2 linked regions of the Homo sapiens genome follow. The protein of the gene in region 1 interacts with the protein of each later gene in a biochemical or structural test. Each region holds a gene or a part of one and is shown on either strand. Other genes may lie near its edges.

Evidence for each region.
Region 2: the proteins of PCTP (region 1) and PAX3 form a complex in vitro, tested with the Homo sapiens proteins (one study listed by BioGRID).

Annotation. Positions count from the first base shown.
Region 1 is NC_000017.11:55,754,022-55,761,053, forward strand, and holds part of PCTP (phosphatidylcholine transfer protein), read left to right. Parts: exon of another isoform or gene 1-67; intron 68-7,032. UniProt on the Homo sapiens protein: Catalyzes the transfer of phosphatidylcholine between membranes. Binds a single lipid molecule.
Region 2 is NC_000002.12:222,199,383-222,205,026, reverse strand, and holds the end of PAX3 (paired box protein Pax-3), read left to right. Parts: intron 1-2,836; coding exon 2,837-3,083; coding exon of another isoform or gene 3,084-3,103; exon of another isoform or gene 3,104-3,314; intron 3,315-3,584; coding exon 3,585-3,619; coding exon of another isoform or gene 3,620-3,623; 3' UTR 3,624-3,786; coding exon of another isoform or gene 3,787-3,853; 3' UTR 3,854-5,140; downstream 5,141-5,644. UniProt on the Homo sapiens protein: Transcription factor that may regulate cell proliferation, migration and apoptosis. Involved in neural development and myogenesis. Transcriptional activator of MITF, acting synergistically with SOX10.

The DNA of each region.
Region 1 (7,032 bases):
ACCAACAACACAGAAGCACAGAAGACTCCTGTGACCAAATGTCTGAGGATTTCTCTCCAAACACCAAGTAAGCAGTCAGTTTTGCGGTGGACGTCAGCTAGGTGTCCTCCTGTTCAGTGTTGACACTACCTACCTGGAAATAGTGTCAGATCCCGTAGGTTGAGGTCCCAGTCCCACAAGATTAACCCCCTCTTCCCTGCCACTTGTAATGCCAGTTGAAAGCCCCAGGTTGTTTTACCTGTGCTTCTGACCAACTGGCTGTAAATAGGGGATCCCATGACCCCCTCCTTGGATTCAATTAATTTACTAGAGAGGCTGACAGAACTCAGGGAAACACTTGCTTTCATTTACTGGTTTATTATAAAGGATACTACAAAGTATACAGATGCATAAGATGAGATATGGGGGAAGGATCTTGGAACTTCCATGCCCTCCTTGGATGCATCACCCTCCAGGAACCTCTATGAGTTCAGCTATCCAGAAACTCTCTGAACCCCCTCCTCTTGGGTCCTTTATGGAAACTTCATTGGCTAGGCATGATTGAAGCATGGACAACAGTGTTGAAATATGACTGGACAGAAAGGGTCTGATCTCATATTAATAGACTGATTGGGGAAACCCAAGAAGGCCTGTCCAGATTCTTCTGGCCTCTCCATGCGACATTCCTTCTTCCAGGGTATGAGGCAGGACCCTCCCTGGAATGAAGTTCTTGCAACTCTTGGCTCAACTCCTGAGGCCTAAAGTGCACCAACGTACAAAAGACTGTAACGAGGGCTATGAGAGTTATGAACCAGGAACAGTGGATAGAAACCTGTGTGCGCGCGTGTGTGTATTGGATGTACAGTACTGGAGTATGTATGTGGGTGTGTGTGTATACTCTATGTCCAATACACACACGCCGCCACACATATGTATACACACATATGTAAATTATATATTTATATACACACATATACATATGTATGTATATGTATACATTTTGTATATATAGCTCATAATATCACAAGTACTGTATTCAGAAAGGAGACCAGAGACAATTTGTTTATATACTTCATTGAGCCTTTATTGAGGATCTGCAATGGGTCAGATTTCCATCTATGGAAATGGATCTGAGATAGAGTTGCTCCCCTGAAGATTCTAGTGGCTTAGTTATGAAGTTATGGGCGTCGGTTGGACTGATGGTCCTTTAAGGACCCGATTGTGCATAGCATGCTTGCCACTGTGTGGTACGAGCTGGTTGTGACGACCCTTCACTTTGCTTCCCACACTCAGCATAGAGGTGGCCAACCTAAGGCCAAAGCTATGTGGCTTCTTGGGGCTCTTGAGCAAGATTTGAAACAAGAATAGAGAAAAAGAAAATTGTGACCATGATTTAAATGATGCTGTAACAAAGTTACTGTTACATGTTTTTAAAAGACTGAAAGAAGAGTAGAGGCTCTTGAAAGAGATTTCAATGTAGCAAATTGTATTTTGAAATAAAAATAATAGAATTGTGTCCTTTTTTTTAGTAGACACAAATTATTCTGAATCCTGTTCTTGGACAAGTGGGCAATTTTGATGTACAGCTTTTGATAATTTTTTTTTGTTTTCTATTTTTCTCTTAAATCACAAAATTCTGGACTGGAAAGTTTCTTCTAAGCCATGCTGTCCAACACCATTATCTTTTTCCTCTACTTCTTCTTTCTTTGCCTACTCTATTTCCTTCCTCTCTTATTTCTTCTCCATGTTGTAATGATAATAACTTTATTTGATGCTGCAAATTATAAATGCTGTCATATAAGTTTTCACTTATCCTTCTAAAGAGATGTGGAAGATAGGCAAAAATGGGCTTACTTTACAAATGGAAATAAGATCCAGAGTTGTTGAGCGAGCCACATGAGACCTCATAACTAATAACTAATGTGAACAGTCTACTATGATAAACTCAGTACCAAATACACAACTTGCTTCCATACAAGAACTACATTCTGTTTCCGGAGGCTAAAGCAAAACTAGACCAGGGCTGCCATGGGTATTGTGGGAAAAGCATGGATTTTGGAGTCAGATAGTCCTGTGTGAGAGTCTCAGCTCTGTTCCTCTATCATTCATTTAAGCATTTGGGAGATATTCATCAACTGCCTCCCATGTGCTACTGTCTTCATAGACCCTGGGGATAAGTGGTGAAGAAGGAACATGGTGCTGCTGCTTCAATGAATGAGCTTCTTGAACATGGATCATATTCATTGATGAGAATAAGCCCATAGTATATGATGAAATGTCCAGTGGAAAATGCTATAAAGTACTTTAAAGAAAATGTTATAAAGAAAATAAAGCGAGATAAAAGGATAGAGAGATGGCATGGCAGGGTAGCCAGGGGTGATGTGATGTGTTTCAGATAAGGGAGTCCAGAAAGGCCCTCTGTGGAAGTAACATTTGGCCGATTTGAATAATGCAAATATCTGGAGGAGAAATGAATCTGAGAGTGTTTCTCAAAGTTCAAGCACATTGGAATCACTCGAGACAGCTTTACAAACCATACCAAGCCCTACCTTAGGGATTCAGGTTTAACTGGTCTAGGGTGGGGCTTTGGTGGTCCTTTTGAGAGGCTCCCCCTTCACATAGGGGTTAATTATTTTGTCCTCTCTACTTTCGTGTATGTTTGAAATCTTTCATAATAAAACCGTTTTATACACGTGTGTGTGTGTGTATTATGAATGTGTGTGTGTGTGTGTGTGTGTGTGTATATATGTATATATATATTTAGGCTTCTCAGGAGATTCATATGAACATGCTGGCTTTTAAGCCACTGAGATAGAGGGAACACTGGGTTCTAGTCCCTCAGCCAGGCTGAGCTTGCCTCATTTTCCAGGAGGAGCCAGGAGGCCCACAGGACTGGAGTGGATATGAGATTGAAGAGTGGCCAGGGGCCAGGCCCTACTTACTGGCCAGGTGATATTGATCAGTTACTTTTTCATTTTGAAATCTCAGTTTCCTCATTTGCAAAACCTGGATAATACTTACCTTTCAGGGTTGTTGAGAGGATTGAACGAAATGATAACATGGCAGAATTGTTCTCAAACTTGAGTGTGTATTGGAATCTCAAATTTGAGCATGCATTGAGTGTGCATTTGGATATATATATGTACACACACAAAAGCATGCATTGAGTGTGCATTAGAATATATATACACACACATGCTTGTGTGTGTATATATGTATATATATACACATATATACATGTATACATATATACACATATATGTGTATATACACAAGCATGTGTGTGTGTGCATATATATTCTAATGCACACTCAATGCATGCTCAAGTTTGAGATTCTAATACACACTGAAGTTTGAGAACCATTCTGCCATGTATCATTTCATTCAATCGTCTCAACAACTCTGAAAGGTAAGTAGTATCCTGGTTTTGCAAATGAGGAAACTGAGACACACACACACACACACACACACACACGTATGTATATATATATGTGGAAAATACTATATGTGTATATATATACACACACATATAGTATATATGAATATATACACATGTATATGTGTGTGTGTATATATACTAATCACACTCATCAATGAATGTGATCCACGTTCTCATCAATGAATAAGTTCTATGTTCATGTATGTATGTGTATAGATAGATAGATAGATACTCTTCTTTTTTATGCATTATATTTCTAACCAGCTGCTGAATGATGCTGAGGCTACTGGTCCGGGAATCACACTTTGAGAACCACTGGTGGATGGGGAGCATCTAGCATGGTGCTGAGGCAGTTCTGACATTGAGAGCTAAAGTCAGAGGCAGGAGAATACCCTAGAGATGAGATGCAATGGAAATTGAAAGATGAAAGTGAGACCAAAAAATGTCTTAAGACAAAAGCAACATCCATTTTAGGGCTCCCTCTCCCTGATGTTTAAGTTAGTGGTCACTTGGGAGTAAATGTGGTCCCCTGAGCAGTGCTGAGAAGTTTCCCTGAGAGAAGGGCCATGGGTCACTTAGAAAAGCTCTTCCAGTGATCTGCAAGTCAGGCCCTTGCAGGAACTTCAGGCTTCGTTACCATGCCATTAACCACTGCCCATAGAGTGTGGAACCAGTGCGCAGAGGCTCACAGCTTCAATTTAGAGAAAATAAATGTTGGACTGAAAAGCTCTGGCTGATGGCTTGACTTATTAAGTTTTTAAATCTAAATATCTGGCACTGTGAGAAGGGGCAGCCTAAATTGTGTTTTTGTCCTTGAATAGGGCTTCTAATCAAAGAGTTTGGTGAGGAGCAGACAGTACTTTCCCAGGGACTGTTCTTCCCTGTGCTCTTGACCTACTAAAATTCTCAAAGACCAGCATGACTGGAAAAACTGCATTTGGGCAGGCTGGGCTGAGAGAAAGTTTGGCCTTTAGAGAGAAACACAGATCCATCTCACAGGAGAAGAGATTTCACTCTATAGATGTGAAATCCCTACTCCTATTTCCCCAGATGGGATAATAAGCCAATTAGCATCATGAGCCCCATTACTTCAGGATTGTAAAACTGTTCTGCTCCTTTCTGTCATCCTTCTGATTACCAGCGTGATTGATAGAATCATTCTTGAGCCCTGGTCACTTATGGAGCTGAAATTTACTTGTGGGCAGAGCCACCATGTCTCCAGGACACCCGTCTGTGGCATTCTACTTCCCACCATAGACCAAGGCCAGCTCCTTCTTTTCTGTCTCCCTTGAGTGTGCAACTGGGTAGATAAGTTAGAGTCTCAGTTTTTCCCTCTCCTCGCATCTGTCTTAGGATAAGCCTGTGGGTATGAGGCCATGCGAGAATGCTGGTCTCAAGGTTCAGATTTGGTGGAAGGAGGGGAGAGGAAGGAGTAAGATGCCTCCCTTCTGTCTCCAGGTATAAGCCAAGCTTTATGCTCTCACTCTGTCTTTCACCAGATTGCTGTATGGCGATTACAGGAGGTGGCTATTAATAAAACAAAACACTGATATTTCATTCAGCCTTGGGAATCCCTTGAGAAGAGAGATGACTTGTAGGGAAGGGTATAGGCATTCTGAATGCTTGGACATAATACCATACCAACATCTGGAGTGAACCAGCAGGTGAATCTGGGGCAATGCTGAATAGAGGTTCTTGTCTCTATACATGTGCCTTTTCTGGACATTTTGCAGAACATCTTTAAGCCTCAGTTTTCCTGTTTGAAAAGTGGGTTTACTGATGGTCCATACCTCGTATCATTATTTGGATTAAGTGGGATAATCCATGTAAAAGCACTTGGATCAGTGCCTGCTGTTCAGTTAATACTCAGTAAACATCAGCTATGAGTATTGTTTTACCTAGCTGTGTGCAACCCTGAAGGATTAGACCTATCACATTTTCTTAGAGAGGTCTTAAATATTAAATCAGATTTAGCCAACTATCTGTCTTTGTAGAGTCTTGGCACATACTTCCCAGCAGCAGCTGCAGCTTTGACTTCTGCCATTAGAACTGCTTTACTTTGATGAAAAATACTTATTTTTCATACCATCTGAGTCTATTACTTGCCCCAAAGTGGATGGACTTGGACAGCTTTTAGATAAATAGATTGGGGGTGTTTCCTGTCCCTCTGAGGAATGGAAATGAGCGCTTCTGTGAGAGGCAAAGAGAACTCAATGCACACTCATGAGTGCATTCACAGGATTTGAGAATATGTGATTTATCAAGACCACCTTGTAGTTAGTGGTGTAAATTCAGATAAACACCATAAATTGGAGGTAATGAGTGGTGCCTTTCTCCAGGCCTGGATGGGTGATGGGACATCTACAGGAGATTACTCCTGTGTGGGGATTGCAAGTGTCATTTGCAAACATTACGACATTTTGACACATCTCATATGTAAATGCATAGCATCTCTTTCAGAGTTTATTCTGTTTGGGACAAATAAGTGTACTGTTGACAATAATATTTCTCAGAATACTTTAACCTTGTAAATATAATTGAAAACAAATTGCACAGATGTTTTTTTTCACGCATTTGAATCACCATTGCTGAGAAATATACCAGTTTAATGTTTCGACAAGTTAGCCAGCACGATAGCATCTCAAAAATTAGTGATAACAGTAACAGATTTCCTGGCCATGCATTCCCCTGTCTCCAGCCTCCATTTCTTCACTTATAAAGTGGAGTTAATGATGCTTACATCACAGGATTATTGCAAGTATTCATGATTAAGCCCAGCCTGGCTTAGAGCAGGTTCACTGTAGATATTGGTTTTCCTGAAAATGTACATTACAGTTCTGAATCCCAGTTCTTTAATCTGGAAAAAGGAGATTATCGTACCTACCTTGTTAATGAAATAGTAACCTACCTTATTAATGGGAATGATATCTAATATTTACTAAGTACTTATTATGTGCACCACATAATAGAACTTTAGATGGATTATCTAGTTTAATCCTCATAATCATTCCATGAAGTAGAAACTTATTAGACCCATTTTGCAGGTTAGTAGTGGAAGAGGTTAGATTCTACCCAGACGGTGAATCTGAGCCCATGCTATTACCACCACACTGTCTTTTCTGACTAGCTTTTCTGATTTATGAGACAGCACTTTGGAATAGTATATGGAAAAACTTGGCACAGTACCTCATCTGTTGAAAGTGATAATATTCATCTTTCTCTATACCTGCCTTTCTCCTGGTTCCTTTCTGAACCCTTCAGAAGCAGCATCTAAAAAAAAATACTTCTTCTGGCCCTTTGGAGGCCTGTTGGGCAAACACACCAGGCTTAGGGACTCAGGGGAGCATCTCAGTGGGAGGTCCGTTCTGGGTGGCCTGGAGCAGGAGTACTGGCTTAGGGAAGGAAAGGGTTCCCATCCAGGCTTTGCCACCAACAGCGTCATCAGCTGACTCTTGGCAAGTCACTCACATTACACAGCTAAGCTAAGACCCCTTCCTGCTCTAAGATCCTGTGTGATGGGTCTTCTTTATCTTTATCATTAGTTTGTGGTCTGGAACAATGATTTGGGAATGACATGCAGAGAAAATACAGCTAAATAAGGAGACATTGTAGGG
Region 2 (5,644 bases), on another chromosome or scaffold:
TATAATTAGTTATTGCTGCCTTCAAAGTTATGCAAACAAAAAATGTATGGCAGGGGATTTTTTTAAAAAGTTTATCACAAAAATGTACATATAGCTCATGGGAAAGTGTGCATGTTTTGAATAAAATTCTGCTCTGAGCTCATCAAGTATAACTGTACATACAGCATTCCATTTCTCCCTTAAAGTGACATACCATTGACTGAATTTCAAGTAAGTATCTTCATGAAGGACAATATTAATTTAGAGTTTATTTTCCTTTTATTTAGTGCCACTGGATATCTTTCCTCTCTGGACTGATATAGTTACAAAATTGCTTTTTCTAAGATTTCGAATTTTGCTTAACACAACTTATTCATGGTAAAATATTTGCCCTGTGCGATTATTCCCTTTTATTAAAAAAATCACATTTTAAAGTGTTTTTATGTTCATGTCCAATCTCACCCATCAGGATCACACACGAAAATGTACTCCTGATTTGAAAGGAGTGTGTTTGGCACCAAACAACCTCTAACTTAAAGACTCTTTTCTTCTAAAAGAAATGTCTAATTTGGGCTGAAATTTCATAAATAATAAACTAGTGTATCAATTGAAGTTCATGAATTTTCCAAGTATACACTTATATAGAAATCATCTATATAAGCTCAAATAAAGGCAAAAAGAACCCATATAGATGGAAAACATATCCAGGAACTAATTTAAATGCATTCTTAGTTATGTTCAAGTTCTTTTAAGTAGTGAAATGAAGAAATTGCTATAAACAATGCTGGGTAGGGCCCTAAAAGAACCCACATTCTAGTGATTTTCCATCTTCCTGGAATTGTCAATCCTATTGATGCTTACTTTATTTTGTGACTTTCACTTTCTCCAAATCCCCAATAAAACAAAATTGGGCTCTGCCACAAATGATGTTTTGTGTGTTTTTTTTAAAAATATAACTAATTTTTAAAAATTGTAAAAAAGGATGTTTTACCACATATCTCAAAAAATCTTAGATTCCTGGGATGTCTTTCAAAATGTGGGCTTTGCTGTGTTGCTTTGCCCACACCAGCCCACCTTCCCATGTGTGTGCATAGACAATAACTCAAATGAAAGAGAGACAACAAAATGAAAAACAGGATTTCTGGGGAAGGCAGGGACATCCGTTCAAATTTTCTGTTAAAATGGAGGAAGAGTGGATAATTGATAATCCACAGAAGGTGGATCTCTTTTTCTCTGTCTTTTGGGGTCAGCTGAAGATGGATCAGCTCAGAGCTTTAGTTCAAGAAGATTTTACTTAATCATAAGGATTATGCAAACCCTTCCCAAAGGGAATTATGGGATCCTTGTTTTTGGAATCTGAGTTGAGATGCTTTCTGGGAAGCAAAACTAGACCCGCCCCCCGCCTCACCTGCCTCTCAGATTCCTGCCTTACTGGAACTCCTAGATCCGAGGTTCTATTGCCTGAATTATGAGAGTTATTCTGCAGTTAGCATGAGGGCTTATAGTCAGGGCTTGGTTGTCATTTCTGCCCTCTCCTCTTTCTCTTATTTGCACACTTTAATCTCTGTAGGCTTCACACTTCCTAAAATAAGACAGGACTGTTATGGAAATGTTGTGGAATTGTTGGATACTGCATTTAAATACTTTGTAAGTAGATGTGTCTTCGGGGGGGCTCTTGACCTGGCGTTAGATTTCTTTTGCAATTGCTTTTGAACCCTGCCACAGAAGGGTACATAGTTTAGAAAAATCGCTTCCTCTCTCGTGTGGCAGTTTTCCAGCTGCAAAATTAATTATCCACTTACTTTCACCACAAGGTGCTGTAAGGGTCAGGGATCTTGAGTTGGTGAAGCACTTCACCATGTTGATCTGAAAGTTATTCTGTCACAGGATATTTTTTTTTTTCCAAGTTGTCTTACTGTCCAGGTTATTTACAAACTGAACTTTTTAAGACCATGTTTGCATTTCAGGCTTGTCTTTCCTTTTAACACTTCATATATATATATATATATATATATATATATATATATATATATATGAAATGGTTGTTTAGAGAAGAAATAAAATAATAGGTAATGGAGGCTTTTACTTGGAGAATCATTTACATTTCATTCATTCGGCACTTAATATGTGTCAAGCATTCACTGCTTTAGGTGCTGGGATATAAAGATGAATAGATTGCTCCTCTCAAAGCTCTCACCAGTCAAAGCAGGTGACTGAACTAATGAATATACAGTGGGAGGGGTAAATAAAGTACCAGAGACCATCAGGAAAGGAGTAAATATTTCTAATTATCAAAGAATGGCCAAGATAAGGAAAGGGGCTTTCTTGAGAGGGAACACTATTTAAAAAAAAAAAGGCACAGAGATCTCAAAGTACATGAAAAATAACTTGATTTGGATTCATTTATCTTTTAAAAATATAAGCAAATGACTGTTTAAAAATCACATGTGAAACTTCCAGATATAATGTATGAATAGACATTTTTCTGTATGAACAGATACAATTTCTCCCTCTTTTCATCCTTTTTTCCCCCTTCTTTGAAATTCCAGTCTGATTTTATCACTAGGGACGTGGTGTAATCTCTCTCTTTCCTCTTCTCCTTCCTTCTTTTCCTCTTCCCCCTCTTCTCCCCTCTTCTCCCTCCCCCTTTCCTTCTTCTGCAACTGCAGTCAGATGTTATCGTCGGGCATGATGTAATATCTCTGCCACTTAGAATTGGGTTCATAGTCTCCTGGACAGCTCTTTAACCAATTTCCAAAGAAATAAAAACTGGACTGTCAAGTTATTCTTTCAGCTGTAGGCTGCAATCTGGATCTCTCTGCATTTTAACCTCTTCCCAATCTGGCTGTTTTTTTAGGTAATGGGACTCCTGACCAACCACGGTGGGGTACCTCATCAGCCCCAGACTGATTACGCGCTCTCCCCTCTCACCGGGGGTCTGGAACCTACCACCACGGTGTCGGCCAGCTGCAGTCAGAGACTAGACCATATGAAGAGCTTGGACAGTCTGCCAACATCTCAGTCCTACTGTCCACCCACCTATAGCACCACAGGCTACAGTATGGACCCTGTCACAGGCTACCAATATGGGCAGTATGGACAAAGTAAGCCTTGGACTTTTTAGGGGGCAATTTCTCCTGGAAGGGAGATAAACTCAACTCTTCCTTAAGAAAGGTGAATTAGAGGCAAGATTAAGCCACACATGCCGGTATCAATTTTTTTTTTTTTTTGCAAAGCCAGCTGACTGTTCCAGCAGGGGCTTCCTTGTGTAATTATTTTCTTAACTGATGTCAACAACATCTTGCGGTTATTAATTGTTGAGACGTGAAACCTGATTGCCACTAGGTAAAACACAAGGGTTGGCCAAAATGAAATAATCCCTGACATTAGAAACACATGTTCTTAATGAGGTCAGCTCCAGGATCATATGGGGGATAATCCCAGGGACACAAAGTTGTGTCAAACTTGTCTCAGGAATAAAAATATTAGTCTCAAGCCTTTGATAGCACGGTATTAAATATGACATTGTCAGCCTGTAGCTGATCTTGCCCCTGACTGTGAATTGTCCCAGCATGACCTAAAAAGCTGCGTGTGTTTCCTTACAGGTGCCTTTCATTATCTCAAGCCAGATATCGCGTAAGTGAACTGTCCACTTGGAGCTAAAACTGGCCCTGTTTCTGGTCTTCGCAGCCTAGATATGAAGAATCTGCTCTGAAAACAAAAAAAAATTACCCTTTTGTTGGGGGGGGTGGGGCAGTGGTCCCAATAGGAGACAAAGGAGAGTGATTGATTTTCTTCCTCCAATAGTTGGTTTCAAATCCTTTTGAACACGTTCGACAAAAGCAGTGGAGAAGAGGAAGACCTGGAGCAATAAAAGACAAATGCAACATTTTAAGGCAATGGTTTCACATGGTTACATATCAAAACATCCCAATTCTTTAGTGCTGATCATCGAGGAGCTAGAACATTCCATTTGCTTGTGTGCGTGCGTGCGTGTGTGTGTGTGTGTGTGTATTGAGATTTACCCAGACTGGTTTGGGCAAGCAGACTGTTCTAAAATATAATAGAATACCCTAAAGTATAACATGTCGATGTTCGATGCTGATACTTCTACAACTTTAAAACTGCTCATTTCATGAAGCAAGAATGGAGGAATCCTTGACTCTTACACACTGGAAATTGAAATAAAGATAAATGCAACCATTTTTAGGAAGCTAGACTAGCTGTAAAGGACCTCCTAAATAAATTATTTGTTACTGTATCCTCATTTGTAATCTAGTTGTCAATAAATGGCCCGGACATGTCTTGCTAACAGGATATGGGCTACCAGGAAGAAGGACTTGTTTCCCTTTCCTGTGTGGGGAGAGGTGTGTGACGTTTTTCCAGTTCACATTTATTTGGTAGCCCACCTGGGTTGGAGGAAGGGCACGGTGGAGAGAAAGTGACATGCATTCACATATCTGCTTATCAGTGTGCAATACTGTGTACCTCATGGATGCTTTGGCAATGCCCAAGGCGATATAAGCAAAATCAGAAGTATATTTTTGCAGGTGCTTTTATTTTCACAGCCCATAATTCATAGTGATAGAGTGCAGTGATGTTTGCCATTTGCTGGACAACCAACACCCGGGTTGCTCCTTTGATTAGAGACCAGATCAGATAATTATGCTTTTAAACTGATTACGTTTACATTCTTCTCTTTTCTATGAAAGGCAGGGCAAGAACAGAAGTGTTCACATGGCTCTCATGTACTTTTAAATTATACAATGATATCCAATATTAAAAGATTATAGGAACTGAGGTTTACATACGTTTGTGTGGTGACATTTTAGAATGTCAATAAATTTGCTTTTTGAGATGTTGAGAGGAACAAGAAGGTGGAAGGCAGTGTTATTTATTTCTTTCTATTCTTGGAACCACGAATGAGGTAGGCACAAATACATTCCTTTTAGAGTTAAGAACTATGACGTAGCGAGTTAGTGAGACTAGACATAGTACCGAATTTAGTTCATGCATTGGTCTTAGAGGGTGATGGAACAAGAGAAGTACTATCTTTGTGTTGCAGCCTCAACCAACAACAATGTGTTGTAAAAATGTCTTTCATGTAAAAAGTGCAGTAAATATTTACTATTTATAATGAATAAACAGTTATGAAAACTTGCCCACTACTGCTTTTTTGGGGGAACTGGTGAATGTAGTATAAATGAAAACTTGGCAATGGGGAGCCCAATGTACATGAACTTCACTTCTGGTGGACCCTTTCTATGAGAGTATTCTGTCGACAAATAAGGTTACACAACCCACAGTTGTATTCTCTTGAAGAAGCTTGGTTGAACACACTTTTAAGGATTGAAGTTTATGTTTTTATCAGTGTAGCATCTAGAAAAACCCTTCAGTTTAGCTTCCTTCATCTTTCTTTGGTTCTCTCAGAGTTATCCAGTCCCTTTACTGTCACTTAGAGATATGTTTTCCCTGGAGTACCCGGTTCCATCTTCATCTCTAAGTCATCTCCACGGAAATTTTTATTTAAAACTCTCATATTTTATTTATTTTATTTTAGCAGCCTACTTTATTCTTCATGAAAGGTATTACTGCGTACTTCATTCATTCTTCCTTTCTTCCTTCTCCTTCCCTCCCTCTCCTGATCCTTTCTCCTCTCCCTCCC